Homo sapiens: one gene and its partners. Changing the gene in region 5 together with the main gene of any one other region gives a genetic interaction. Each region holds a gene or a part of one and is shown on either strand. Other genes may lie near its edges.

Evidence for each region.
Region 1: changes in ZNF574 (region 5) and ATP1A1 together harm fitness more than expected from each alone (negative genetic interaction), as found in Homo sapiens cells (one large-scale study listed by BioGRID).
Region 2: changes in ZNF574 (region 5) and MFAP1 together harm fitness more than expected from each alone (negative genetic interaction), as found in Homo sapiens cells (one large-scale study listed by BioGRID).
Region 3: changes in ZNF574 (region 5) and CIT together harm fitness more than expected from each alone (negative genetic interaction), as found in Homo sapiens cells (one large-scale study listed by BioGRID).
Region 4: changes in ZNF574 (region 5) and VPS4A together harm fitness more than expected from each alone (negative genetic interaction), as found in Homo sapiens cells (one large-scale study listed by BioGRID).
Region 6: changes in ZNF574 (region 5) and CEP295 together harm fitness more than expected from each alone (negative genetic interaction), as found in Homo sapiens cells (one large-scale study listed by BioGRID).
Region 7: changes in ZNF574 (region 5) and RNGTT together harm fitness more than expected from each alone (negative genetic interaction), as found in Homo sapiens cells (one large-scale study listed by BioGRID).

Annotation. Positions count from the first base shown.
Region 1 is NC_000001.11:116,386,711-116,390,616, reverse strand, and holds part of ATP1A1 (sodium/potassium-transporting ATPase subunit alpha-1), read right to left. Parts: intron 3,330-3,906; coding exon 3,126-3,329; intron 2,487-3,125; coding exon 2,373-2,486; intron 1,980-2,372; coding exon 1,845-1,979; intron 1,716-1,844; coding exon 1,598-1,715; intron 1,179-1,597; coding exon 910-1,178; intron 405-909; coding exon 206-404; intron 1-205. UniProt on the Homo sapiens protein: This is the catalytic component of the active enzyme, which catalyzes the hydrolysis of ATP coupled with the exchange of sodium and potassium ions across the plasma membrane.
Region 2 is NC_000015.10:43,803,736-43,807,840, forward strand, and holds the end of MFAP1 (microfibrillar-associated protein 1), read right to left. Parts: intron 1,731-4,105; coding exon 1,641-1,730; intron 1,542-1,640; coding exon 1,359-1,541; 3' UTR 757-1,358; downstream 1-756. UniProt on the Homo sapiens protein: Involved in pre-mRNA splicing as a component of the spliceosome.
Region 3 is NC_000012.12:119,709,504-119,713,409, reverse strand, and holds part of CIT (citron Rho-interacting kinase), read left to right. Parts: intron 1-115; coding exon 116-207; intron 208-714; coding exon 715-819; intron 820-1,062; coding exon 1,063-1,232; intron 1,233-2,316; coding exon of another isoform or gene 2,317-2,361; intron 2,362-2,789; coding exon 2,790-2,870; intron 2,871-3,023; coding exon 3,024-3,159; intron 3,160-3,906. UniProt on the Homo sapiens protein: Plays a role in cytokinesis. Required for KIF14 localization to the central spindle and midbody. Putative RHO/RAC effector that binds to the GTP-bound forms of RHO and RAC1. It probably binds p21 with a tighter specificity in vivo.
Region 4 is NC_000016.10:69,313,985-69,317,890, reverse strand, and holds part of VPS4A (vacuolar protein sorting-associated protein 4A), read right to left. Parts: intron 1,884-3,906; coding exon 1,772-1,883; intron 1,667-1,771; coding exon 1,519-1,666; intron 1-1,518. UniProt on the Homo sapiens protein: Involved in late steps of the endosomal multivesicular bodies (MVB) pathway. Recognizes membrane-associated ESCRT-III assemblies and catalyzes their disassembly, possibly in combination with membrane fission.
Region 5 is NC_000019.10:42,079,082-42,082,374, forward strand, and holds the end of ZNF574 (zinc finger protein 574), read left to right. Parts: coding exon 1-2,216; 3' UTR 2,217-2,471; downstream 2,472-3,293. UniProt on the Homo sapiens protein: May be involved in transcriptional regulation.
Region 6 is NC_000011.10:93,660,105-93,664,779, forward strand, and holds the start of CEP295 (centrosomal protein of 295 kDa), read left to right. Parts: upstream 1-1,577; 5' UTR 1,578-1,670; intron 1,671-4,675. UniProt on the Homo sapiens protein: Centriole-enriched microtubule-binding protein involved in centriole biogenesis.
Region 7 is NC_000006.12:88,953,514-88,957,419, forward strand, and holds part of RNGTT (mRNA-capping enzyme), read right to left. Parts: intron 1-3,906.

The DNA of each region.
Region 1 (3,906 bases), on a different chromosome or scaffold from region 5:
AATTTAAAGTTTCTACTGACATGCAAAAAATCAATATCCCATACCCTTGACTCTTCACTAAATGATAAAAAAAAAAAAAACAAAAAAGAAAGAAAAAGCTGCCATGAGCTTAAAAAAAAAAAAGAAATTTCATGCAATTTCTTAAAAGAAAAAAAACCAAGCGAAGTCAGCAGGTGGCTGAGGTGTGTGGTAACCCTGGCCTTACCACTCTGATTCTCTGTCGTATCAGCTTCATGGATTTGATTGTCAAACCACATGTGGGCCACTGTCATCCGGTTCTGAGTCAGAGTTCCAGTTTTATCAGAGCAGATGGTGGACGTGGACCCCAAGGTCTCCACAGCTTCTAAGTTCTTCACTAAGCAGTTTTTCCTTGCCATGCGTTTGGCAGTAAGTGTCAGACAGACCTAAAAAATATTAGGAAGATTATTACTTCACTCAACCAGGCTGGAATTCTATACAGATTCTTGCTATATCCTAATGTGGAAGAAATTTGTCTAAAATTAAATCTCTCCAACCTTCTTCTGAAGTTTGAAGAAATAATAAGGGGAACCCATACATGAGGCTTCCCCTTCCTTCCAGAAAAGCAATCTATTAAGAAAAATAATAACAGGATTCTACCATATTCTATCCCCCTACTTGATCCCAAGTTCTTCTCCTTTCTCCACTGCACTGTTCAGGACCACGTGATAATTTAAAAGCAAAATGTATGCTTTGGGGTTATCTTACGTATAAACAAATGCTGAGGTTTTCTCACTGTCAAAATTCACCACGTGATGTGGCTCTCAAGAAGAACTATATCAAACATCCAGAATAAAACATAAGTTGGCAATACCTTAGAATAGGATAGCGGAAGAGTGTAACATTCGTGCAAGCTGATCTGAGTCAGGGTGACCATCACCTGCCTCTTACCGTGACAGTGGCCAGCAAACCTTCCGGCACATTGGCTACGATGATACCGATGAGGAAGATGACAGCCTCAAGCCAGGTGTACTCAAGGATGAGAGAAAGGATGAAGAAAGACACACCCAGGAACACAGCCACACCCGTGATGATGTGGATAAAATGTTCAATTTCTGCAGCAATGGGGGTCTGGCCTCCTTCCAGCCCAGAAGCAAGTGTGGCAATTCTTCCCATCACAGTGCGATCCCCAGTGTAGACAACAATACCACGTGCGGTGCCTTAAAAAGAAGGGGAGGGAGAACTGTACCTAATTGTATCTAACCTGAAGGAAGCCACGGATTTTACACAATTACATAGGATGACTAAAAAAACAAAAAGAGTTGATAAAAGCACTTTTTAAGGGCCAGCTCTTTGGCTGTACATGCTGTTTGGCAAAGGGACTTCTCTCCAGTAGCAGGACAGCAGCTCCAACACCCATGCCAGACTGGTGTTGTTGACAGAAGAGGCAGGGTGGAGGTGGAGGGAAGGGAAACTGCCACAAGGTTTCCTGCCAGCTAGGAAAACACCTCTGCTCTGTGCTTGACACAAGTTCTCAGAAATGGAGCCAATAAAACAAGAGATTGTGCCTATGGTTTTGATTTTGTTAATGCCCAAGAGAAATACCACGCCATGCTCAAAGTGCCCAAAAATGGCCTACCTTCAACACAATTGGTTGAAAAGAAGGCAATGTTCCTCGTCTCCAGGGGGTTTTCATTTGTGAAATCTGGAGACCTAGTCTGGGGTTCTGATTCACCAGTGAGCGAGGAGTTATCCACCTATATGTGAGGAAAAGAAGAAAAATGTCATGTGAATACACCAGCCTTATCATGGGCTACTGTACCCCTCAAATCAAGCTGCCCGAACAGCAGAGCTAGCTATGAGGTTTGTTAAAATAAAAGAGCTACCTTGCAGCCATTTGCAGATATGATTCTGAGGTCAGCAGGAATTCGGTCTCCTCCTTTTACTTCCACCAGATCCCCAACCACAACTTCCTCCGCATTTATGCTCATTTTCTCACCATTTCGAATCACAAGGGCTTGCTTTGGAAAAGAAACAATTTACACCGTTAGTATACCAACAAAGAGAAGGTAGTGTCCAAAACAAGAAAATAAAAATAGTCATAATCCTAATTACCTGAATACAAAACAAAGATATTATTCACTTTTTTATTTACACAAGTTACAAAAGCTTGCTCGCCAGTTTAAGAGATATTGCTGTTACATGGTGTGCCTGTATTCAGAGTTTACATTCAAAAGAAAGGCTACCACTTTTTGGATAGAAGGAAAATAGGTTGGTTTTGGGTGGGGTAGAAGACATCCATCTCTCTGATGAGTCATGTAATACTTGGAAAACCTTAACTTCACACTAATTCACAGGCTGACATGCTTGGGGCTGTCAAGTCATCCACTGGGGAAGGACAAAGCGTCTGGTACCTGAGGGACCATGTTTTTGAAGGATTCCATGATCTTTGAACTTTTAGCTTCTTGATAGTAGGAGAAGCAACCAGTTATGATTACAACGGCTGATAGCACCACACCCAGGTACAGCTGGAAGGGAAAAGACAAGTTAGGGCCCGTGGCTCTACACAATAATTAGGGACATTCAATTAATTTTTTGACTGAATAAAAAACAGATTTTTAATAGAGAAACCAAGATTTCAGAAATATAGAACTCATGTTTTCTTATTTATCCTTCTAAAGACCACACAGGAAGGGTCAGAAATGGAGTCAGGCACACCAACACTTGATCACTAACTGGACGTTTGGAAAGGTTCTAGATGCATCAGTTTCTCCTGCTTTATAAAACAAAGATTGTTTTTCAACCAACTTGTGGATTTTGAAGAATGGCCACCAAGCATTTCTGGACAGGTGGATGTGCCAACATGAATCGCTGTGCTCTGCCATCCAGTGGGTGGCGGCCGGGGCCTGAGCAGAGCTGCCTGCTCACAGCAGCACATGCAGGTGGGCATCCCACTTGTAAGAGCATCTACAACGTGGGTGGTAGAGAGAGGAAATGGAAACGAAGGAAGAATGGATGAGCCTTGAAGGCAACAGCTGTTCATAACCATTAAGTAATGAGTTCATAACCATTAAGTAATGAGTGGTAATTGAGAAGAAGTGGGAGACAAAGACGGAGAAGATATCTGATGTGTACTACAAATCCATATGCTGAATTACAGAACTCACATTATCGTTTTGAGGTTCCTCTTCTGTAGCAGCTTGGATGCTATAAGCCAAGAAACAAAGAATCGCTCCAATCCACAGTAACATTGAGAACCCCCCAAAGAGCTGCCGACAAAACTTGATCCATTCAGGAGTAGTGGGAGGGGGAGTGAGGGCGTTGGGACCATCTCGCGCCAGGATCTCAGCTGCACGAGCAGATGTTAATCCCTGAGAAGCAGTGGAATATAAATAAGGCAAACTGTACCAGCACTTACAAGGCAATATACCTACCTGGTAGCTGGACGGTTGCAATAAGGATTTAAGGAAGAAACAAAATGTCCCAAGCTAGAGAGCCAAGGTAAAACCTAGCAAATTCCTCCATGAATAATTCTGCTGATGAGCCAGTCCCCACAGGGTTCAGGCAAACAATAGGCCCAAGGAACTCATAACACCCAGATTAAAACTCTTTAAATTGATCCATCAATAAATTTGAATTCAGCCTGGTTTCTTCTAAGTTTTAGATCAAGGGATTAATGCCAAATTGCATTTCTGCCAAAAAGGTATCTATTTTCACAAATCCATTCAGTTTTGCAAATTAAGAGCTTTGGGTTTTCTGTGTATTGATTTTGTCGGGAGGGGAAAAAAAACCCCTCTACAAACATCAAAGGAGAAAAAAACTTCCTGTAGAAATCCTTTGGGTTAACAGCCAAGTTTTAAATATACAGCTTGATTCTTTGCTTGTCTGGCAGGGAAGGGCTCACCTCCATGTGCATTTTAGCCACCTCCCAATAAACCTGTTGACTGA
Region 2 (4,105 bases), on a different chromosome or scaffold from region 5:
AGAGATCGCGCCACTGCACTCCAGACTGGGCAACAAGAGTGAAACTCCATCTCAAAAAAAAAAAAAAAAAAAATCAGCTTGGACCAACTCACACATGTTGAACTAGTTTCCTCAACTATAAAACTGTGACGGCCCCAGCTAGGCACAGTGGCTCAACGCCTGTAATCTCAGCACTTTGGGAGGCTGAGGCGGGCGGATCGCGAAGTGAAGATCAAGACCATCCTGGCTAACATGGTGAAACCCCGTCTCTACTAAAAATACAAAAATTAGCCAGGCATGGTGGCAGGCGCCTGTAGTCCCAGCTACTCGGGAGGCTGAGGCACTCTAGCCTGGGCAACAGAGCCGTCTCTTTAAAACAAACAAACAAACAAAAAAAAAACCCTGCAACGGCCCCTGAGTCTGCTGTAAGGACACTCAAATGGCAATTACAGACATTTCTCCAAGAGTTTCAAGGCCTTACCCTCATTCTGACTCTAGGATAATTCTTAGATTGTATCCCACACAACAGTGACTTGTACCTGTGTTCATCTTTATGTATTTACCACCTCATAGTAATTATTTGCATTCATTTTTATCGTACGACACTAAACTATTTGATTCTTCCAGTGGGACATTTAAAGGATGTGAGAAGACCTTGGTCTTCTCAAAAACATCTGTATTTGGTCATGGAATAAATCCAGATGCTACCTAAAGCCAAGCTAGTACCTGAGCTTGTTTCTGAGATCAAAGGGAATTATCAAAATGTGAAACACCTTCTGCCTGACAATTGTTATCTTTTACTTTAATAGGCAATTAATACTTGTCAGCTTGGACATTTTATTTCCAGTATCATGCTAAAAATCTCCTTGTTGTGTGATTCTTTTATTTCTTGACATGCACACATATATGGATCAAAAAGTATGTACAACTAGAAAAACGGACTCCAAGCAAAAATGGAAAACATGTTTCCATGAGCTTAGATTTCCGGGTATATTACTCCTAAACCTAAGGTAGAAGTAATGCATTGTTCACTTACATGTCCACTTTTCTAACCCAAGCTAAGGGCTGGAAAAAGAAAGTCAGAACAGTCCCAAGTAAATATGGGAAACCATAGCAGTGATAAAACCTAAGATTTCTCAGAAATAGTTTTAAGTGGGAAGCCTCTAATCCTACCTGGACAGTGCTTTCCTGTGGGTTTCTCAGCATGAGTCCAAACCTCACAAAGCACCTTCAAAGTCTGGGCTACCCAGTATCACAAGTATAGCAGTAAGTCCAATATCTGGATACAGGGGCCAAGGAAACAATGAAAAAACCAAATCAAGGACCAGATGCTGAGACTCCCCTTGTGTTCCACAGTTGGAAGAATAAGCAGTTGGACCCTAGGTAGTTTTCCGCTTCTTGGCAGATGGCCGCTCAAATACATCTCGTACCCCAGCTGCCTTTTGTTTGAAGAACTTTGTGTTCTGGGCACTCTCTTGGCCCCAAGCTGAGTCAAAGGAGGTGGTATCTTGATCCACAAGGTGAGTGTATTTGGTGCGACCTGAGCGTCCAAAGTTCTTGACCTGAGGGAAGGATGGATGATGAGTTATACCACCAAACAAACCATGCCTCAGCTATCAATACATCACTTTTCTCTGTCATGTTATTAAGGTTCCCCATACCTGCATGACTTTAGGAAGAATGGTTTTATTGAAATGATCCTCCAGGGTAGGAGCGCTGAAATCTCTCTTGTATACTTCTTCATCCTCATCCTGTATAAAAAAAATCTTATCAATCTTGTGGCTTTATTTCCTATATATTCAAACCACAAATTTATTAAACTCTACAATAAGGGATACAGAGAAAGCAGAGGGTATTGAGCCTTTCTTCAAGAGCTTACATCTAGTTGAAGAGATGACATTCTTTTTTTTTTTTCTGAGACGGACTCTCGCTCTGTTGCCCAGGCTGGAGTGCACTGCCGCGATCTTGGCTCACTGCAACCTCCGTCTCCCAGGTTCAAGCAGTTCTCCTGCCTCAGCCTCCCGAGTAGCTGAGGCTACAGGTGCATGCCACCACACTCGGCTAATTTTTTGTATTTTTAATAGAGACGGAGTTTCACCGTGTTAGCCCAGATGGTCTCGATATCCCGACCTTGCGATCTGCCCACCTTGGCCTCCCAAAGTGCTGGGATTACAGGTGTGAACCACTGCGCCCGGCCGAGATGATATTCTTTTTCCTTTGTTGTATTTCTCCTTTTTTTTTTTTTTTTTCCCTGAGACAGCGTCTCATTCTGATGTCCTGATGTCCAGGCTGGAGTGCAGTGGGGTCACTACTGCTCACTGAAGCCTTGACCTCCCAGGATCAAACGATGCTCTCACCTCAGCCTCCTGAGTGGCTGGGACTACAGGTGCATGCAACTATGCCTAATTTTCTCCTTGAGTGTAGACGTGTCTTGAAGGTTGGCTTATTCTCTGCACTCAATGTGTTTGTTTACTCATGTGACTTCAACTCTGCATAGGCCTCTCAAATCTGCAATCCTGGATTTTTTACTGGCTTTCATATATCATAAGTTGGATATTTTATTGGGACTTGAAATGCACGTCTAAAGTGAAAACCATTTATTAATACCTAACCTTTCCATATCAACCTCTTCTCTTTAACTTTTCTGTTAGTAGGACCAGCGTACTCTTCGATTACCTAGATTCAAAACTGAGTAACCTCTGTGTGCATTCAATCAGTTGCCACATCTTACAAACTCTTACCACCTGGGTTATTAGTTTTCCTCTACTATCAGTCTCACATACTGTCATGGCACTGATGTTTCTAGACTGTAACTCATTATAATCTTTGCCTTGCTCAAAAACTTCAATGGTTGTCTATTAAATGAATACAACACCTAGGCTGGGCGCAGTGGCTCACGCCCGTAATCCCAGCACTTTGGGAGGCCAAGGCGGGCGGATCACGAGGTCACGAGTTCAAGACCCACCTGACCAACATGGTGAAACTCTGTCTCTACTAAAAATACAAAAAACACTAGGCCTGGTGGCGCGCACCTGTAATCTCAGCTACACAGGAGGCCAAGGCAGGAGAATCACTTGAACTCAGGAGGTGGAGGTTGCAGTGAGCTGAGATCGCACCACTGCACTCCAGCCTGGGTGACAGAGCGAGATTCCATCTCAAAAATAAATAAATAAATAAATAAATGAATACAACTCCTCTGTGTAGTAATCAAGGCCAAATATTATACAGCCTTAATCCACCTTTTCAGTTCTCTTTGCCGCTTCCCTTCACAGCTGATGCTTTCTGCCTCCACTCCTGCTGGTCTCCACCTGGAATGTCTTCCCAGCACCGAATGTCAAAAAGTCTATACATCTTGGCCGGGCATAGTAGCTCACGCCTGTAATCCCAGCACTTTGGGATACTGAGGTGGGCACATCGCCTAAGGTCAGGAGTTCAAGACCAGCCTGGCCAACATGGAGAAACCCCGTCTCTACTAAAAATACAAAAACTAGTTGGGCGTGGTGGTACACGCCTGTATTCCCAGCTACTTGGGGGACTGGGGCAGGAGAATTGCTTGAACCCGGGAGGCGGAGGTTGCAGTGAGCCAAGATCGCACCACTGCACTCAAGCCTAGGTGACAAAAAAAAAAATTATATATTTAATTTTTTTTTTTTTGATACAGTCTCACTCTGTCGCCCAGGCTAGAGTGCAGTGGCGTGATCTCGGCTCACTGCAAGTTCCGCCTCCCAGGTTCACGCCATTCTCCTGCCTCAGCCTCCCAAGTAGCTGTGACTACAGGCGCCCGCCACCACGCCTAGCTAATTTTTTGTATTTTTAGTAGAGATGGGTTTTCACCATGTTAGCCAGGATGGTCTCAATCTCCTGACCTCATGATCCGCCTGCCTTGGCCTCCCAAAGTGCTGGGATTACAGGCGTGAGCCACCGCGCCCGGCCCAAAATTATACATCTTAAATGCTTAAATGTTACAACCTTTACGTCAACCCTTTCAATCTTCTACCAAATATAACATCTCTCTCGTCAGAACCCCTACAGTACTTTACTTTTACTTATGTTATAGTGATTATGTATTCTCGCTAACAGTGCTAAACAGTGACCTTTGCATAGTATATGCACTAAAGCTTACTTA
Region 3 (3,906 bases), on a different chromosome or scaffold from region 5:
GATGTTTTCTAGGGAAGTGTCTTTTCTAGGAACTCTGCCACCCCCTCATCCTATCCTCCAGCCGGATGTTTCTTCTGAGTTCAGACATTTTTCTTTTCCATCTTTCTTTCCCCAGGAATAACAAACGAGGACAGCAAGGCTGGGACAGGAAGTACATTGTCCTGGAGGGATCAAAAGTCCTCATTTATGACAATGAAGCCAGAGAAGGTAAATTAATAATTCAGGGGGAAGGTCATTGCACGTGGCTAACCCAGGTCTCCCCAGTGCTGGCGCGAAGGCTTTGTTTTTTGGACTGCCTTGCAAGCCTTCTACGCTTTTCCATTTTTGAAACTTACAAACCAAATGACTTCTCTAAAGGTTATTGGTGCGATACTCACATCTATAGGTCTCCCCCCTGAAGAACCCGCAGGGCGCTGCCCTGAAGATTCCACCTGCTAATACACCTTCCGAGAACTTCTGCCTCAGTCAACTAACCCATAAATCCGCATCGTCATCAGAAATTTGACTGTGCTACTCATCTGACACACTTTATTTTTTTTTATCTTCCCTCTCTGCCTTCTCTGCACACCTCTGTCCCTTCCTTGTTCTCGTGCGCCTCTCTTTACACACGTACCCTGTCTCTCTCTCCCTTGCTGTCTCTCTCGCTCTCTCTTCTCCCCTTGTTCTTGTTCCTGTTCTTTTGTTTTTCTTTCTGCCCTTCCTCTTTGCACCAAGCTGGACAGAGGCCGGTGGAAGAATTTGAGCTGTGCCTTCCCGACGGGGATGTATCTATTCATGGTGCCGTTGGTGCTTCCGAACTCGCAAATACAGCCAAAGCAGGTGAGGAGGAGCCGGAGGAGCCCCGCCCTGGAGGTGGGCCGGGCTTGGCCAATCAGCAGGGACAGAAGGGGTGGTACAGGGAAGATTGGCTCTGCAAAGGAGGCCCATCTTCCTCCGCTCCCCGCCTTGGCGGTAACTGGGATTTGCGTGGTTTGGTGGGCATCTTTGATCTCTCAGGCCCGTCCCTCCCAGTGGGAACGGGGGAAATCCACACCCAATCCTGTGCTCTCTGAAATCTCCTAGATGTCCCATACATACTGAAGATGGAATCTCACCCGCACACCACCTGCTGGCCCGGGAGAACCCTCTACTTGCTAGCTCCCAGCTTCCCTGACAAACAGCGCTGGGTCACCGCCTTAGAATCAGTTGTCGCAGGTGGGAGAGTTTCTAGGGAAAAAGCAGAAGCTGATGCTGTGAGTATGAAAGCGGGCCCTGGAGGTTGTCTTTGTAAAGGGGGCTGACTTGGTAACTGGTGTTAACGACGAGAATCCCATTGGCCATTTTGATTCCCCTCAGGCTCTCTCTCTGAGGGCTGATGGCTCTAGACTGTGTCATGGCCAGGAGTCTGGTGGTGATGAAGGCACAAGCACCAAGGTAGCTTGTGTGGCATCATGATCCATTTAGAATGTGGGAATCAGGGATGCGGTGGCTCATGCCTGTGGTCCCAGTGACCCAGGAGGCCAAGGCAGGAGGATCACTTGAGCCCAGGAGTTTGAAACCAGACTGGGCAAGATAGCAAGATCCCATCTCTTAAAAAAAGAGAAAGAAAGAAAGTTAGCCAGGTGTGGTGACATGCACCTGTAGTTCCAGCTAGTAGGGAGGCTGAGGCCGGCGGATTGCCCAGGAGTTTGAGGCTGCAGTGAGCTACGATTGTGCCACTGTACTCCAGCCTGGGCAACAGAGCGAGGCATGGACTGTAAAAGCAAAGGAAAAAGAATGGGGGAATCGGCATCAGTAGCCTACTCTGGTGGCATTGTAGACCTTGGTTGTGGTGATGCAGCAGCAAATGTACTTATAAGGAAATCCTCTCTCCTGTTTACTCAAATGAGTTTGTCTGGTTTGAAGGCTTGAGTTAGAAGCACTTTGGCCACGAAGCAGCACAATAGGCTGCCGGCAGCTGTGTCCCCTCCAGGAAGGCTTTTCATAAGCATCTCAGTTGTTTTTGCAGTATTTGCTCTTCCGTAGGCAGGTTTGGAGTCCTACTTATCCTTAAGCTGTTAGAAACGTAGGTGTGCTGTGATTGGCATCACCCCACCTAAAATGTTCCAGGATACAAACAGTGCTCATTGCTCATTGACGTTTGCTCCAGCGAAGACCAAACAGCTCTTTTCAGACTCTTCACTCCTAATAAACACTTTATGTGTTAGCAATTGGCAGATTCTTAACCACAAGCCTCCTGAAAAGGGCTTTACTCAGTGGTTAGACCTGTTTGGATGACTTGTTGGTCGTTTCACACGTGAGCTTTTACTGAAATCCTTGTTAATATGTGTACAATAGGCCCGCGACTGTGTTTCTTACGAGCTTCTGCCTGCCTGGGTTCAGGTAAAGAGATGCAGAGGCGTGCTGGCTCGCTGCTAACACGGCGCCTTTGCACTTCTGCTGCAGCCTTATGGGGGAAGGAGTCTTTCATGTGTCTTATTAACCCTGCGCAGGTGAAATCTCCTTAGCTTCAGCTTATTTCTTATTACAGAATAGCTTTCCATGTCTACTACCCTCCCTTATTTCTGCATCCCAGCCAAATTATAACTCAGATGCTAATTAACAGCTGCCCCAGAGATACCAATAGCACTCGCATTTTGCATTTGGAGCTCAGATCAAAATACGGGCTGAGCTAAGAGCATATGTGCGTTTCTGAGCATTTCCAGGAATAACTTGGCCTTAACCTTCTCTTGGTTTCTCTGGATGGTTTGGTCATAAACAGATCAGCCTCACGATGTCTTCTGTTTTTCTTTTCTTTCACCTATGAAAAGAAACTGCTTGGAAACTCCCTGCTGAAACTGGAAGGTGATGACCGTCTAGACATGAACTGCACGCTGCCCTTCAGTGACCAGGTAATGCTTGCATGGGCACGGCCAGCTGGTGTCTGGTTACAGCCACACCCCATCAAGAAAGAAAGGGCTGTGGAGGCCTTGTTGCTCTTACTAGAGATTGTTCTGGTGACGTGACCGTGCTTATGTTCTGCCTTCGGACTTCTGCCCTTGCAGGTGGTGTTGGTGGGCACCGAGGAAGGGCTCTACGCCCTGAATGTCTTGAAAAACTCCCTAACCCATGTCCCAGGAATTGGAGCAGTCTTCCAAATTTATATTATCAAGGACCTGGAGAAGCTACTCATGATAGCAGGTGTGAGGCCAAGGACATGGTGTTTTTTCTTTACTTTCAAGGGAGCCAATATGTTGAAGCCACGTTTCATGCTCGTAAAACACAAAATAGTAGAGAGGAGCCGTTGTAGCTCTTATCTCTGTGTCCCCATAGATGCCCAAGCCTCAGCTAATGGACCCCCTCTGTCCAGATTCAGTTCCCTTCCAGTATCCAGTTTAGCACAGTCTGACATTCCCAAAGAACATCCCACTGTTAGGCCAAGTGAAGAGTGCTAAGCCTCGAAGACTATCTAAAGCCAAACCCTTTGTCCTGATTGCAACGAAACCACCGTGGGCCCTGACCTTCTGAGAGCTTGCTTGCTCTGTTAACTCTGTGATCTCTCTCAAGTCACCATTTGCTAATATTTTGTCATAATTTTTTTCTCTGTCTTCTTAACACACACACACACACACACACACACACACACACACACACACACACACACTCTCTCTCTCTCTCTCTCTCTCTCTTTCCTGAACCATTTGAGAGTTAGTTGCAGGTATGACGCCAAGTTCTTCAGTATATCAACCTAAGGATTGAAGACATTCTGTCACATAACCAGGGTACAGTTTATTTCTCTCTGTCTGTGTTAGTGACATTATTTTTAAAGGGGAAAAGAGTAATATATCGATTCAGTGTTCAAAACAACAACAGTTAGGTCTTGTTTCAGGCATGGCTGGATCCGGGGACTGACATACTATGGACAAGAACTGGCCTTTCTTAATCTCA
Region 4 (3,906 bases), on a different chromosome or scaffold from region 5:
CTCCCGGGTTCAAGTAATTCTCTGAATTCTCTGGCGTCAGCCTCCCGAGTAGCTGGGATTACAGGCACATGCCACAATGCCTGGCTAATTTTTTTTTTAAGACAGAGTCGCACTCAGTCGCCCAGGCTGGAGTGTAGTGGCTCGATCTCGGCTCACTGCAAGCTCCGCCTCCCGGGTTCACGCCATTCTCCTGCCTCAGCCTCCTGAGTAGCTGGGACTACAGGTGCCCGCCACCACGCCCGGCTAATATTTTGTATTTTTAGTGGAGACGGGGTTTCACCGTGTTAGCCAGGATGGTCTCAATCTCCTGACCTCGTGATCCGCCCGCCTCGGCTTCCCAAAGTGCTGGGATTACAGGCGTGAGCCACCGCGCCCGGCCTATTTTTTTGTATTTTTAATAGAGACGGGATTCACCATGTTGGCCAGGCTGGTTTTGAAATCCTGACCTCAAGTGATCTGCCCGCGTTGGCCTCCCAAAGTGCTGGGATTACAGGTGTGAGCCACCATGCCCCGCACCAGAAGCTTTTTGTAGAGACTCAGGGACAGCATGTGCCCCTGACTCCAAAGCAGCCACTGCCGAAGGACAGAGGAGAAAGCAAAACCGAAATCGAAAGGGAACTCCTGGGGAGAACGCAGCCACTGTCACCCCAGGGCTACTTCCTCCCTGGATGGAATCTGTCATCCTCAAAACTTGATTTAATCCTTATTGGAGATCCCTGGCCTCCACCCCTGCCTCGCCAGACCTCTCCCTCTGCGGATGGGAACGTGGTGCAGACCCTCCATCCAGGAGGAGGCCTCGCCTCTGGTGAGGCAGCTGACACCACCCACCCCTCTCCTGCCTGGGGGACCCCCTCACTTCCCCTCCCACGCCTCCGAGATACCACCAGCATTTGTGTTCATATGACTGGGATCACCGTGGTGGGCGAACCCAGTACCTGAGGTGAGAGGCTGTGGAGAGGACCCTGGCTGGGGAATCGGGGCCACCCGCCCTGCTTTGGGGGTCCAAGTTCCATCCTGTGCCACCTCGGCAGGGCTCCTAACCCGAGCCGGCCGCCCCACCTGTTGGAGGCAGGTGACTCTTTGACAGTCACAGCAGCTGGCACTCATTGCATGCTCTCGTGTGCCAAGCTCCAAGGGCACTGCCCACGTCATCTCACTGCTCCCTGTGGCAACGCTCGGAGGTGAGTTCCACGACCTCCCCACTTCCAAGATGTGGAGATGGTAGGCACACGGGGTCCTGGCACTAGGCTGGGAGGTGACAGAGCTGGGGTCCCGTCCTGAGAGGCTCTACCATCTGCACCAAGCTCCCCCTCTCCCCATGGCTTGTGGGTCAGATCCAATGAGACGGTGAACATGGAAGTGCTCCAGGCCATGCTCCCTGAAAGCAGCTGCTGGCACTGTCATCCCTGCACTATGAGGACCATTCCCACAGGGAAGTCCAAGGCAGCATGAGCGCCAGGAATGATAGGGAGCCGTGAGGAGGGCCCAGGTTCCTGGGCGGACGCTGCAGACACTCACCCCTTGCCCTCACTCTGGTTCTCTTTGACTGGCTTCTTGCCGTGTTTCTCTTTGCTTCGTAAATAATCCTTCAGCTTCTCGGCCCGGTCTAGGTACTGCACGCACTTGGCTCGAATGCTCTCCTTGGCCTTGTCGCTGTGGGCCTCATCTGTGAAAGGGAACACAGAGGGGCCCCTGTGAGGCTCGTGCGCCACCCCCTCTCCTCCGCTCCCCTCTGGAGTGCGGCAGCCTGAGGACCCCTCGTGTGACTCACACTTGATAGCGTGGAGGAAGTACTCCACCGCATGCTGGTACAGCCGCAGCGCCTCCTCGTAGTTCTTGGCTTTGTCCTCCTCTGTGGCTTTCGTCACCAGATCAATGGCTTTCTGGAAAGGCAAAGCAAATGGCTCAGTGCTTCCTCGGAGAGGTGGAAAGTCCCTGGGGTCACAGGCATGGGGATGAAACGTGACGAGGGATGCCGCTGGGCCTGTGGATTTATTGCTTGCGGGCCATTTCATTGGCCTACTTTTTCAACATCGGCTAGAAAGGCCTTCAAAGAAGGCTTTGAAAACCAGCCGGCCATCTTCACAATAAGCTCAGACGGTTAAAAGCCACGCTCTGGATTTCAGCAAGTGGAAACCTGACCTAATATCTCAGGTCAGGGCTCAAGGGGCAAGTTCATGGGACTTTCTATTCTGCTGCCTCAAGGGAAAGAGAAACAGACCCGAGCTGAGAGCCTGGCAGAAGGGACACGCGGGAGCAAGTGACTGCTGGTTTGTTTAGCAAGGAGACCAGAAATTGCACCCGGCCTCAGGGCCAGAGAAGAGCCAGCCAGAAGGAAAGTCCTGCCCGGACTGCAAGTTTGCACAGGATACACTGAAAGGCCTCTCTCCTCCTCCTCCTGGCTCCATGCAGCTTGCTTCTCCAGGCTGCAGAGAGAAGACAGTTTCCTTCGCTGTCTAAAGTGACACCCTGGGAAGGGACGCTTACACACAATGCTCCACATACCAGTAGCTCCAGTAAGAAAAGTACTTGCTTGCTCCCTGCTGCCAACAGAAGAGAACTGTGTCCCTCTGGAACCTTCTAAGAGCTCTGTGAGAATGAGTGTCTTTGGGAATCTCATAAATCCTGTAGGCCAGTGCCTTAGGCTGAACTGAAAGCACCTACGTGGTTTTATTTATTATTATTATTTTTTGAGACAGAGTCTTACTCTATCATCTAGGCCGGAGTGCACTGGCGCGATCTCGGCTCACTGCAACCTCCACCTCCTGGGTTCAAGTGATAGATGCCCACCACTACATCCGGCTAATTTTTGTATTTTTAGTGCAGACAGAGTTTCACCATGTTGGCCAGGCTGGTCTCGAACTCCTGACATCAAGTGATCCACCCGCCTTGGCTTCCAAAGTGCTGGGATTACAGAAATGAGCCACCGCGACCGGTCAGTAAAGCACCTACATGGTTTTAAAGCCTGGTTTTAAAAACCGCAGCTTCACCAACGCCTGCACGAAGCATGACCAGAATTCTCCTCCTCAGATCCGGCACCAGTTACCAGGCAGGCAGTCCCACCGCAGACCCACGGTTCCAGGCACAGCAAACAATAAACCTCCTGACCGGCTCTTGGCAGGGCCGGGGCATTTGTTCAGCCCTCTCTTATCTGCAAGGAAGAAGTCTCCGAAAGAAACACACACAGACAGCTCGACAAAACAGACAGGCCAGGGGAGGCTGGGCCAGGCTGATGTGAAATGAACTCAGCGGATTGAAGAGATGAGAAGAGGGGTGAGTGCTGGCCATTATTTTCAAGCCTCTGCTCCCTCTACTACCTACAATGAATGGCTGGGAGCCCCAAACCTTCTTGGAAATGAGCTTAGGCACAGGCTGCCCTTGTCTGCCCTCTTCTGCATGATGTTCCTTCAGATGAGACAGGAAGGCAGCGCTCCTCTCCCTGGTGGCTTCTCGTCTCCAGAACACACACCCCCAGTACCTTGGACTTTTTCACTCTCTGTAGCTTCATGCTTGGGTCTATCCTTAGAACAATACTGAAGGTATTCTTTGTCCCATAAGGAGCAGCACTGACCCATCCCCTCCCTCCTTTTGGAAATTCTAGTAATACACCTAAGAGTGTGCTGGGGCTGGGCACGGTGGCTCATGCCTGTAATCCCAGCACTTTGGGACGCGGAGGCGGGCGGATCACCGGAGGTCAGGAGATTGAGACCATCCTGGCTAACACAGTGAAGCACCATCTCTACTAAAAATACAAAAAGTTAGCCGGGTGTGGTGACGCGTGCCTGTAGTTACGGCTACTTGGGAGGCTGAGGCAGGAGAATTGCTTGAACCCAGGAGGTGGAGGCTGCAGAGAACCGAGATCACACCAGAGCAAGAGTCCATCTCAAAAAAAAAAAAAAAAAAAAG
Region 5 (3,293 bases):
CTGTTGTCCTGGGGTCCCCAGTTGTTCTAGGGCCTCCTGTGGGCCAGGCCCGAGTGGCTGTGGAGCACTCATACCGAAAGGCAGAAGAGGGTGGGGAAGGGGCGACTGTCCCATCTGCCGCTGCCACCACCACTGAGGTAGTGACTGAGGTGGAGCTGCTCCTCTACAAGTGCTCTGAGTGCTCCCAGCTCTTCCAGCTGCCGGCGGATTTCCTGGAGCACCAGGCCACTCACTTCCCTGCTCCTGTACCCGAGTCTCAGGAGCCTGCCTTACAGCAGGAGGTGCAGGCCTCGTCACCTGCAGAGGTGCCTGTGTCTCAGCCTGACCCCTTGCCAGCTTCTGACCACAGTTACGAGCTGCGCAATGGTGAAGCCATTGGGCGGGATCGCCGGGGGCGCAGGGCCCGGAGGAACAACAGTGGAGAAGCAGGCGGGGCAGCCACACAGGAGCTCTTCTGCTCAGCCTGTGACCAGCTCTTTCTCTCACCCCACCAGCTACAGCAGCACCTGCGGAGTCACCGGGAGGGCGTCTTTAAGTGCCCCCTGTGCAGTCGTGTCTTCCCTAGCCCTTCCAGTCTGGACCAGCACCTTGGAGACCATAGCAGCGAGTCACACTTCCTGTGTGTAGACTGTGGCCTGGCCTTCGGCACAGAGGCCCTCCTCCTGGCCCACCGGCGAGCCCACACCCCGAATCCTCTGCATTCATGTCCATGTGGGAAGACCTTTGTCAACCTTACCAAGTTCCTTTATCACCGGCGTACTCATGGGGTAGGGGGTGTCCCTCTGCCCACAACACCAGTCCCACCAGAGGAACCTGTCATTGGTTTCCCTGAGCCAGCCCCAGCAGAGACTGGAGAGCCAGAGGCCCCTGAGCCCCCTGTGTCTGAGGAGACCTCAGCAGGGCCCGCTGCCCCAGGCACCTACCGCTGCCTCCTGTGCAGCCGTGAATTTGGAAAGGCCTTGCAGCTGACCCGGCACCAACGTTTTGTGCATCGGCTGGAGCGGCGCCATAAATGCAGCATTTGTGGCAAGATGTTCAAGAAGAAGTCTCACGTGCGTAACCACCTGCGCACACACACAGGGGAGCGGCCCTTCCCCTGCCCTGACTGCTCCAAGCCCTTCAACTCACCTGCCAACCTGGCCCGCCACCGGCTCACACACACAGGAGAGCGGCCCTACCGGTGTGGGGACTGTGGCAAGGCTTTCACGCAAAGCTCCACACTGAGGCAGCACCGCTTGGTGCATGCCCAGCACTTCCCCTACCGCTGCCAGGAATGTGGGGTGCGTTTTCACCGTCCTTACCGCCTGCTCATGCACCGCTACCATCACACAGGTGAATACCCCTACAAGTGTCGCGAGTGCCCCCGCTCCTTCTTGCTGCGTCGGCTGCTGGAGGTGCACCAGCTCGTGGTCCATGCCGGGCGCCAGCCCCACCGCTGCCCATCCTGTGGGGCTGCCTTCCCCTCCTCACTGCGGCTCCGGGAGCACCGCTGTGCAGCCGCTGCTGCCCAGGCCCCACGGCGCTTTGAGTGTGGCACCTGTGGCAAGAAAGTGGGCTCAGCTGCTCGACTGCAGGCACACGAGGCGGCCCATGCAGCTGCTGGGCCTGGAGAGGTCCTGGCTAAGGAGCCCCCTGCCCCTCGAGCCCCACGGGCCACTCGTGCACCAGTTGCCTCTCCAGCAGCCCTTGGAAGCACTGCTACAGCATCCCCTGCGGCCCCTGCCCGCCGCCGGGGTCTAGAGTGCAGCGAGTGCAAGAAGCTGTTCAGCACAGAGACGTCACTGCAGGTGCACCGGCGCATCCACACAGGTGAGCGGCCATACCCATGTCCAGACTGTGGCAAAGCGTTCCGTCAGAGTACCCACCTGAAAGACCACCGGCGCCTGCACACAGGTGAGCGGCCCTTTGCCTGTGAAGTGTGTGGCAAGGCCTTTGCCATCTCCATGCGCCTGGCAGAACATCGCCGCATCCACACAGGCGAACGACCCTACTCCTGCCCTGACTGTGGCAAGAGCTACCGCTCCTTCTCCAACCTCTGGAAGCACCGCAAGACCCATCAGCAGCAGCATCAGGCAGCTGTGCGGCAGCAGCTGGCAGAGGCGGAGGCTGCCGTTGGCCTGGCCGTCATGGAGACTGCTGTGGAGGCGCTACCCCTGGTGGAAGCCATTGAGATCTACCCTCTGGCCGAGGCTGAGGGGGTCCAGATCAGTGGCTGACTCTGCCCGACTTCCTCTTTGGCACCTCCATTCCCTGTTGCTGAAGGCCCTCCAGCATCCCCTTAAGCATCTGTACATACTGTGTCCCTTCCTCTTCCCATCCCCACCACCTTGTAAGTTCTAAATTGGATTTATTCTCTCGTGAGGGGGGTGCTCTGGGGTCCTTGACACACATAAAGGTGCCCCCCCACCTTCCACCTCTTAGCACTGGTGACCCCAAAAATGAAACCATCAATAAAGACTGAGTTGCCAGCAGTGTGTAGAGTGGAATTTGGGAGTCATGGGTCTTACCTCTCGTGGCTGCATCACCAACACCCAGAAGTGGGCCTGGCAGGTATTAGGGGTAGTAGGAGCTCAGTAAACATTTGCTGGGCTGAAGAGAATGACCTGGTGTTCATGGGCATGGCTCTCATAGCAGGGCCTTCACTTCACTGCTAGATGGAGGTAGCATGGCTCTCTTGCCACTAGAGGTCCCATGGCTCTGTGGAAAAGCTCAAGAGTGTTTGTACTGGTGGCAGGAACTTTCAGAGAAATCAGATTTTTACACTCCTGTCCCTGACTCCTGGCCTGATGTGGACCTTGTCTCCCAAGGCCATCTGATTTTCTCATTGATCCCCAAGAGCAAATGCAGGTAGGCATGATCTCTAGAGCTGTGGAATTAAAGGAGATTCTGAATAATATGTGTCTGGATGTAGGAAGATTCATGAGAGGTGGTGACTTGAATTCCCCTGGAGTTGGACTTTGGCTCAGCCAACAGATTTTTATTGTGAGTGATGGATTGTTGGGATGGCTGGCTAATGTTTGAACATCTAGTCAGTCTCAAGTACTATATAACTGAATAATATTCACACTGATTACGTGAGAACATTTTGCAGGGAAGGAATCTCCAGTCAAAAGCATTGAGATGACTTGCCCAAGGTCACATTCAATCCAGGCAGGGCAGAGCTTGAATTTAAGCCTGATTTCATTTCATTTGGTTTAATCACCGATATGCTTTTCTCTCTACTCTGTTGCCTTCTGCATACTTTGGGGAGGGTGGTAGAGACAAGATGGGAGTATGTGACTGGTGGGATGCTA
Region 6 (4,675 bases), on a different chromosome or scaffold from region 5:
TATTCATCTGCTTACAGTACATCACTGGATGTTCTACAGGCACATGAAGTTCAATATACACAGAGCTTGGCTCATCACCCTACCCACTTAACTGCCATTTCTGATTTCTCCCTTTACAATCAAGAATCAACACTGCTACCCAAGCTAGTGGCCTATGAAATCAACTTCACTTTCCCTTTTCTCTCAATCTCACATGCAATTGTTTGTCAAGTACTGCTAATTTTGTGTCCTAAGTTTCTGAAATGCATCCCTTTGTCTAGATATCTCATAAACAGCTCAAATTCAAAATATTCAAAGCTTAACTTATTACTTCTCCCTCCTGGTTCTCTTCATGTGTGTTCCAGGAGGATGTTATCACTATCTACCCAGGTGCTAGGTATCTGGGACTTGGGCATCACCCTTGTTTTCTCCTCTTGTGCCTCCCATAACCAGGTAACCACCAATTCCTGATGTTTGGCTTCCTATTCAATCTACTCACCTCTCTCCATTCTCATTGCTATTATCTTTCACTTTCTGTAGTAGTATACGGCCTTCTGTCTTCACTCTCTCTGACCTTTTCCCCACTGTGCAGCCAGATCTGATCGTGTCAGCAACTTCCCATCCCCACCCCCCATTTTTAATCCTTTGATTCCTGATGTTTAACCCCCATGACCCAGACTGCAAAATCTAGTATAGGCATCATAATCCATCCAGAGTAACATAATGTACTCGGCACATAACAGATACTCAATAGGTATTAACCTGTGCTCACCGCCTGATTATTGGTTATTTACAGCAGATAAATCCGTGAGGTGCTCTCCGTGCGCTGTACCTCTGGAGGCACAGGGTAACATACGGCTCATTGTTGTTATGAGCTGGAGGCCTTAAATGAAAGCTATAAGACGTTAACTGCGCATAATAGTACCAATGAATTCCGTAGTCAGTACAGAAAAGGATGCATATCCCAAGATATCTTCATGATGGGGCCTTAAAACAAAAGTCACCCTCATGGCTCTGCACTTTTTTTTTTTTTTTTTAGACAGGCTTTGGCTCTGTCGCCCAGGCTGGAGTGCAGTACTGGCGGGATCTCGGCTCACTGCAACCTCCACCTCCTGGGTTCAAGCGATTCTCCTGCCTCAGCCTCCCGAGTAGCTGGGATTACAGGCGCCCACCACCACGCACGGCTAATTTTTGCTGTTGTCGTATTTTTTGTAAAGATGAGGTTTCACCATGTTTTTAAAAGGACTTGGTCTTGAACTCATAACCAAAAATACATAACCTCGAACTCTTGGGCTCAAGTGATCCTCCCGCCTTGGCCTCCCAAAGTGCTGGGATTACAGGCGCGAGCCACCGAGCGCGGCCCATACGGGAAAACGTCAAAGCCTGACAGGTGTGACAAATAATGGGCCCCTAGGCAGGCTGGGGCTGGCGCGTGCCTGTGCGCGTGCGCGGGGCGCGGGGTTTTTAACACCGCGCAGCCTTCCCGGCGGCCCCCGAGGAAGGCGGGACAGGGCCTATTCCCGCGGTTTGGTCCGGCCATTGGCGGGCGGTTTGAATGACGGAAGTGACGGCGGCTCGGCGATGGCTCTCCCGCAGGCGCAGAAACGGCTGCTGGGCAGCTGATGGGCAGGAGCTTACCAGGCTGGCTTGCTCTGAGCTGCGGTTACTGTGTCCAGGCCCCGGGTTCTCAGGTGAGTCAGGGATGCACTGGCTTCCCAGTCGCCCCGTAGGAGCATGACTCCCCGAGGCCCAAGAGCTGGGATTGTATTCCGGAGGAATGGGATCCCAGGAAGGCGCCTTGTTGCGAACGCAGGTACGGCTCGCGTTTCTCAGGCTCCGCAGGCCGTGGGCCCTGCCCGCGGTCGGGCTGGCGGCTGTAAGGAGTGTCCGGACCAGACCCGGTAACTCAGTGCGAGAGGCTTTGCGCGCTCTCCTGGGGTCGGGTCGCGCGAGCTTCCCACGCAGCCTCCCCTGTCGCGGAGCTTCCGTGTCGGGGGAGGGGCGCTTCCCCCAGATCACCCGCGGACATGGCCTGCCACCTGGTAGCTGTTAAAAGAGCCTTGCCTGGATCGTTTCATGCAAAGAGCACGCTCTCTTTTGGTGTCTGCCACCTTAATCTCACAGTTATTCAATCCTGTCACAAACTCAACTTTTAAAACAATGGTGAACTTTTGAGTCCTTAATACTTAGAGTGTATTTGAAGACTTCACGCTAAGTCACATAGACGTCAGAACAAACCTTTTGGGGTAGATATTATTATTCCCTTTATACAGTTTAAGAAAACGAAACCAAAGTGACTTCAGTGACTTGGCCAGTATCTTCCTGCTAATAAGTGGCAGTGTTGGGTCTTGAACCCAGATCTTCCAAGTTTAGTGTTAATTTTGTGATTACTATGTACCAGGAGCCATTTAATCCTCAGGACGAAATCTTGCAAGATAAGTAGTATAATCTTCAATATTGGATAGTAATAAAATGTAGAATTTAAAAATCCATATTACTAAGAATAAATAATTAATAAACAAGTAAATGGGGCAGCAGGGAAAACTTCCTTACAGCAGGATTCCGATTGATAATTGTAGAAGGAATAATGGAAATAGAAAATACTATTTGGTAAACACCACAGTAGTTGTTTCAGACAACAGTCATCAATGGATACTAACGTCAATGGGCAAAAGTATGATGAAAAGCATATTTCTGTAGCCTCTACTCTGTCTTCATGAGATATTTATAAAGGAAAAGTAGTAACTACAGAGGAGAAACCTGGTGGACATCATCTTAACCAAGTGACCAAAATTCAGCATCATTTACCTCTTGATAACAATGCACTGAAAAGGTGCCTAATCAATTCTGTGGTGTTCTTGCCAAAAATACATAACCTCAGTTTAATCACATAAGATTAGACAAATCTAAATGGAGGGACATTCAACAAAGTACTTGGCCAGTATTTTCAAAAATGACAGGGTCTTGAAAAGACAGACTGAGAAACTGTCCCAGATTAAGGGGGACATGACAACTTTGACATGAGAATGTAACTCACATATCTTAATCTCCTGCATTCTGAAATCTCCATTTGCACTGAGGCCATGCTTCCCATGGGCTGCTCCTAGCCACTGACAGTGGCAGGCCTGTTCCTGAGAATCTCCCCACGGGTTCTTGCTGAACATTTCTTATACTGCATGGCTGTCTAAGAGGGGTCTACCCATTGTTACTTCCCTCCATTCAGTGTTAGACTTACACTGAAGTCTGAGGCGCTTGTAACTTTTATCAGCTCCCTCCCATTTTCCCTCACACACGCATTTCTCCTAATAAAATATTTGCAGGTTTACTCCCATCTTAGCGTCTGCTTTTTAGATGACACACAGTTACACAGCAACAAATGCAATGTGTTATATCCTTGGATTGGCTTCTGGTCCAGAAAATAGACATTAGTGTGATAATTGACAAAAATTGAATACTGCCTGTAGATTAGTAAAAAATATTGTGTCAGTGTTAATATTCAGATTTTGATCATTGTACCATGGTTATGTACAAGACGTTGACATTTGGAGAAGCTGGGGAAAGGGCAAATGGGAATTCTAAGCCTGAAATTTCCAAATAAAAAGTTTAAAAAATTTAAAAATTATACACAAGAAGAAACAGTTATTCTATCGCATTTTAGGAGCTTAAAAATAATAAATGTTTATATGTTTTTCAATAATCCTCTGAGATGAAGTAATGGATACCTAAAATTTGAAATATTAGGATTTTTTTCCTCTTAAAGTATAAGAATAAAACACAAATCTAGGTATACCATTTGAGGAATTTTTACATATGTATACACTTGTCTAAACCATCATACAGATCAAAATATATAAATTTTCAGTACCCCAGCAAGCTTCTTTGTGCCATCTCCGAGTCAGTAACTTCCAGTAAGGTAACTTTATTTTTACCTCTCATGGATTAGTTCTGCTTGTTCTTGAACTTTATATAAATCAATTTTGTTGTACTTTTTTGTGTCTGGCTTTTTAAAAATTCAGCAATATTATGTCTATGAGATTCATCAGGAATTAGTCTTAATTATTTAAATATGAGGGAATTTCTTAGACCTTCAGACAAAATAATAAAGATACATTGTGAAGATTAATCTTGTTCTTTTTTCTTCTTTGTTAAATTTTCTGTTTTTTAAATTCTCACTCTCAAAAAACAACAGCTTAAATAAAATTTTCGCCACTCCACATATTTTTGTGTGTTGGAAAGTTAGGAGCCATTTGGAATAAGGAAACCAGATTCTTCCCTTGGCTCCGCCACTAGATGTTGTCACTCAGGGAAAGTCCTTTAACCCAAGAGGCCTTGTTTCTTCATGTATAGCATGAAAAATATAATCAGTACTTTAGTTACCATTACCAAAGCCGTGTGAATATTAGATGAGTAGGATGCATTAAAAGATTTTTTTAATGCCAGCAGTTAGTCCTTTTTGGTGTTAGAGTCTTATTGAAGGTTGTGATGATTGTGTATAGCTCTGTAGCACTTCACATAAATTAACTCATTGAGTCATTCATTCAGTCAACACACTTACTGAAGTAACTACCTATGGGCGAGACACTGTTTTCAGGCTATGGACATAAAATGGTGAATAAGTCCATTCTGCCCTGATGAGCTTACATTCTGATGGAGAAGTCACTGGAAAGGTATTAGTCCCTGTTAGGTAATCCCACAG
Region 7 (3,906 bases), on a different chromosome or scaffold from region 5:
GAAGAAGAGAAACATAAAAGTTTGAAAAACTTATTTGAGGAAATAATTGAGGAAAAGTTCCCTGGCCTTGCTAGAGATCTAGACATCCAAATACAAGAAGTTCAAAGAACACCTAGGAAATTCATCACAAAAAGATCATTACCTAGGCACATAGTTATCAGGTTATCTAAAGTCAAGATGAAGGACAGAAACTTAAGAGCTGTGACACAATAGCCTCAGATAACCTATAAGGGAAAACCTAACAGATTAACAGCTGATTTCTCAGCAGAAACCTTACAAGCCAGAAGGGATTGGGGTCCCATCTTTAGTTTCCTGAAACAAAATAACTGTCAGCCAAGAATTTTGTATTCAGCAAAACTAGGCTTCATAAATGAAGGAGAGATAGTCTTTCTCAGATAAACAAATGCTGAGAGAATTGGCCACTACAAGAAATGAAAGACACACTACAAGAAATGCTAAAAGGAGTTCTAAACCTTGAAATAAAACCTCAAAATACACCAAAATAGAACATCCTTAAAGCATAAATTTCACAGGGCCTATAAAACGATAACAGAATTTTTTTAAAAAAAGGTATTTAGGCAACAACTAGCATTATGAATAGAACAGTACCTTATCTCAATACTGTATTAACATTGAATAGAAATGGCCCAAATGCTCCTTTTAAAAGACACAGAATGGCAGAATGGATAACAACCCACAAACCAAGTATCTGCTGCCTTCAAGAGACTCACCTAATGCATAAGGACTCACATAAACTTAAGGTAAAGGGGTAGAAAAAGATATTCTACACAACTGGAAATCAAAAGCGGGCAGGAATAGCTATTCTTATGTCAGACAAAACAAACTTTAAAGGAATAACAGTTCAAAAAGACAGAGAAGGACATTATATAATGAAAAAAAGGATTCGTCCAACAGGAAAATATCACAATCCTATATATGCACCTAACCCTGGAGCTCCAAAATTTGTAAAGCAATTACTACTAGAGACCTAAGAAATGAAATACACAGCAACACAACAATAGTGGGGGACTTCAATACTCCACTGACAGCACTAGACAGGTCATCAAGAGAGAAAGTCAACAAAAAAAGAATAGAGTTAAATATACCCTAGAACAAATGGACTTAACAGATATTTAGTCTCAATAAATTTAAGATAATTGAAATTCTATCTAGTATCCTCTCATACCACAGTGGAATAAAACTGAAAATTAGCTCCAAAAGGAACCCTCAAAGCTATACAAATACACGACCAGGCGTGGTGGCTCATGCCTGTAATCCCAACACTTTAGGAAGCTGAGGTGGGTGGATCACCTGAGGTCAGGAGTTCAAGACCAGCCTGGCCAACATGATAAAACCATGCCTCTACTAAAAATACAAAAATTAGCCAGCCATGTACTAAAAATACATGGTGGCACGGGCTTGTAATCCCAGCTACTAGGGAGGCTGAGGCAGGAGAATTGTTTGAACCTGGGAGGCAGAGGTTGCAATGAGCTGAGATCGTACCATTGCATTCCAGCCTGGGTGACAGAGCAAGACTCCATCTCAGAAAAAATAAATAAATAAAAATTAAAACTATACAAATACATGGAAATTAAAATTTCTGCTCTTGAATAATCTTTGGGTCAACAATGAAATAAAGATGGAAATTTAAAAATTTTTTGAACTGAATGATAACAGTGACACAACCTATCAAAACCTCTGAGACACAGCAAAAGCAGTGCTAAGAGGAAAGTTCATAGCATTAAATACCTACATCACCAGGCGTGGTGGCTCATGCCTGCAATCCTAGCACTTTGGGAGGCCAAGGCGGGCAAATCACAAGGTCAGGAGTTCGAGACCAGCCTGGCCAACATGGTGAAATCCTGTCTCTACTAAAAATACAAAAAATTAGCCAGGCATGGTGGCGGGCGCCTGTAATCCTAGCTGCTCAGGAGGCTGAGGCAGCAGAATCGCTTGAACAGAAGAGGCGGAGGTTGCAGTGAGCCAAGATCGTACCACTGCACTCCAGCCCAGGTGACAGAGTGAGACTCATCTCAAAAAAAAAAAAAAAAAACCCACACCAAAACATCTGAAGGAGCACAAACAGAAAATCTAAGGTCACACTTCAAGGAACTAGAGAAACAAGAATAAACTGAACCCAAACCCAGCAGAAGAAAAGAAGTAACAAACATCAGAGCAGAACTAAACTGTAACAAACAAACAAAAAATACCAAACATCCACAAAAGATTAACAAAACACTGGTTCTGGATGTGGTGCAGTGGCTCACGTCTGTAATCCCAGCACTTTGGAAGGCCAAGGGAGGCAGATCATTTGAGGTCAGGAGTTTGAGCCTGACCAACATGGTGAAATCCCATCTCTACTAAAAATACAAAAAAATTAGCCGGGTGTGGTGGCGGGCCACCTGTAGTCCCAGCTACTTGGGAGGCTGAGGCAGGAGAATCACTTGAACCTAGGAGGCAGAGGTTGCAGTGAGCCAAGATGGCATCACTGCACTCCAGCCTGGGTGACAGAGCGAGACTCTGTCTCAAAAAAAAAAAAAAAAAAAAAAAAGCTGGTTCTTTGAAAATATAAACACAATTGATAGACCATTAGCAAGATTAACCAAGAAAAGAAGAAGATTCAAGTAAGTTCAACTAGAAACAAAACAGGAGATATTACAACCGATACAACAAAAATATAAAAGATCATTCAATAGTACTATGAATACTTTATATGCACAAACTAGAAAATCTAGAGGAGATGGATAAATTCCTGGAAATATACAACCCTCCTAGATTAAATCAGGAAGAAAGAGAAACTCTGAACAGACTAATAACAAGTAGCAAGACTGAAACAGTCATAAAAAAACTGCCAAGAAAAAAGTCCAAGAAAACAAAAATAAATTAATTAAATTAAAATTTAAAAATTTTAAGTGCAGGACCAGATGGATTCACAGCTGAATTCTACCAGTCAAAGAAGAATTGCTACCAATCTTACTGAAACTATTCCAAAAGACAGAGAAAGGGAATCCTCCCTAAATCATTCTATGAAGCCAGTATCACTCTAATACCAAAACCAGGAAACAATATAACAATAAAGAAAACTAGAGACCAATATCCCTGATGAACATAGATGCAAAAATCCTCAACAAAATGCCAGCTAACCAAATCCAAAAGCATATCAAAAAGGTAATACACCATGATCAAGTGAGTTTCATACCAGAGATGCAGAGATGGTTTACCATACACAAGTCAATAAATGTTGGCCAGGCGTGGTGGCTCTTGCCTGTAATCCCAGCACTTCAGGAGGCCGAGGTGGGTGAATCATTTGAGGTCAGGAGTTCAAGACCAGCCTGGCCAACGTGGTGAAACCCCGCTTCTATTAAAAATACAAAAATTAGCCAGACGTGGTGGCAGGTAGTCCCAGCTACTCAGGAGGCTGAGGCAGGAGAATCACTTGAACCCGGGAGGCAGAGGTTGCAATGAGCTGAGATGGTGCCACCGCACTCCAGACTGGGTGACAGAGCAAGACTCTGTCTCAAAAATAACTAAATAAAATAAAAATAAATGTGATACGTCACATAAACAGAATTAAAAACAAAAATCACATGATCATCTCAATAGATACAGAAAAAGTATTTGACAAAATCCAGTATCCCTTCATGATTAAAACCTTCAGCAAAACTGGCACAGAAGGGACGTACCTCAAGGTAATAGAGCCATACCTCAACATAATAAAAGGCATCTATGACAAACACATGACCAACACTATACTGAATGGGGAAAGGTTGAAAGCATTCCCCCTGGGAACTGGAACAAGACAAGGATGCTACTTTCACCACTTCTATTTAACATAGTACTGGAAGTCCTCACCAGAGCAATCAGGCAAGAGAAAGAAATAAAGGGCATCCAAATTGGTAAAGAGGA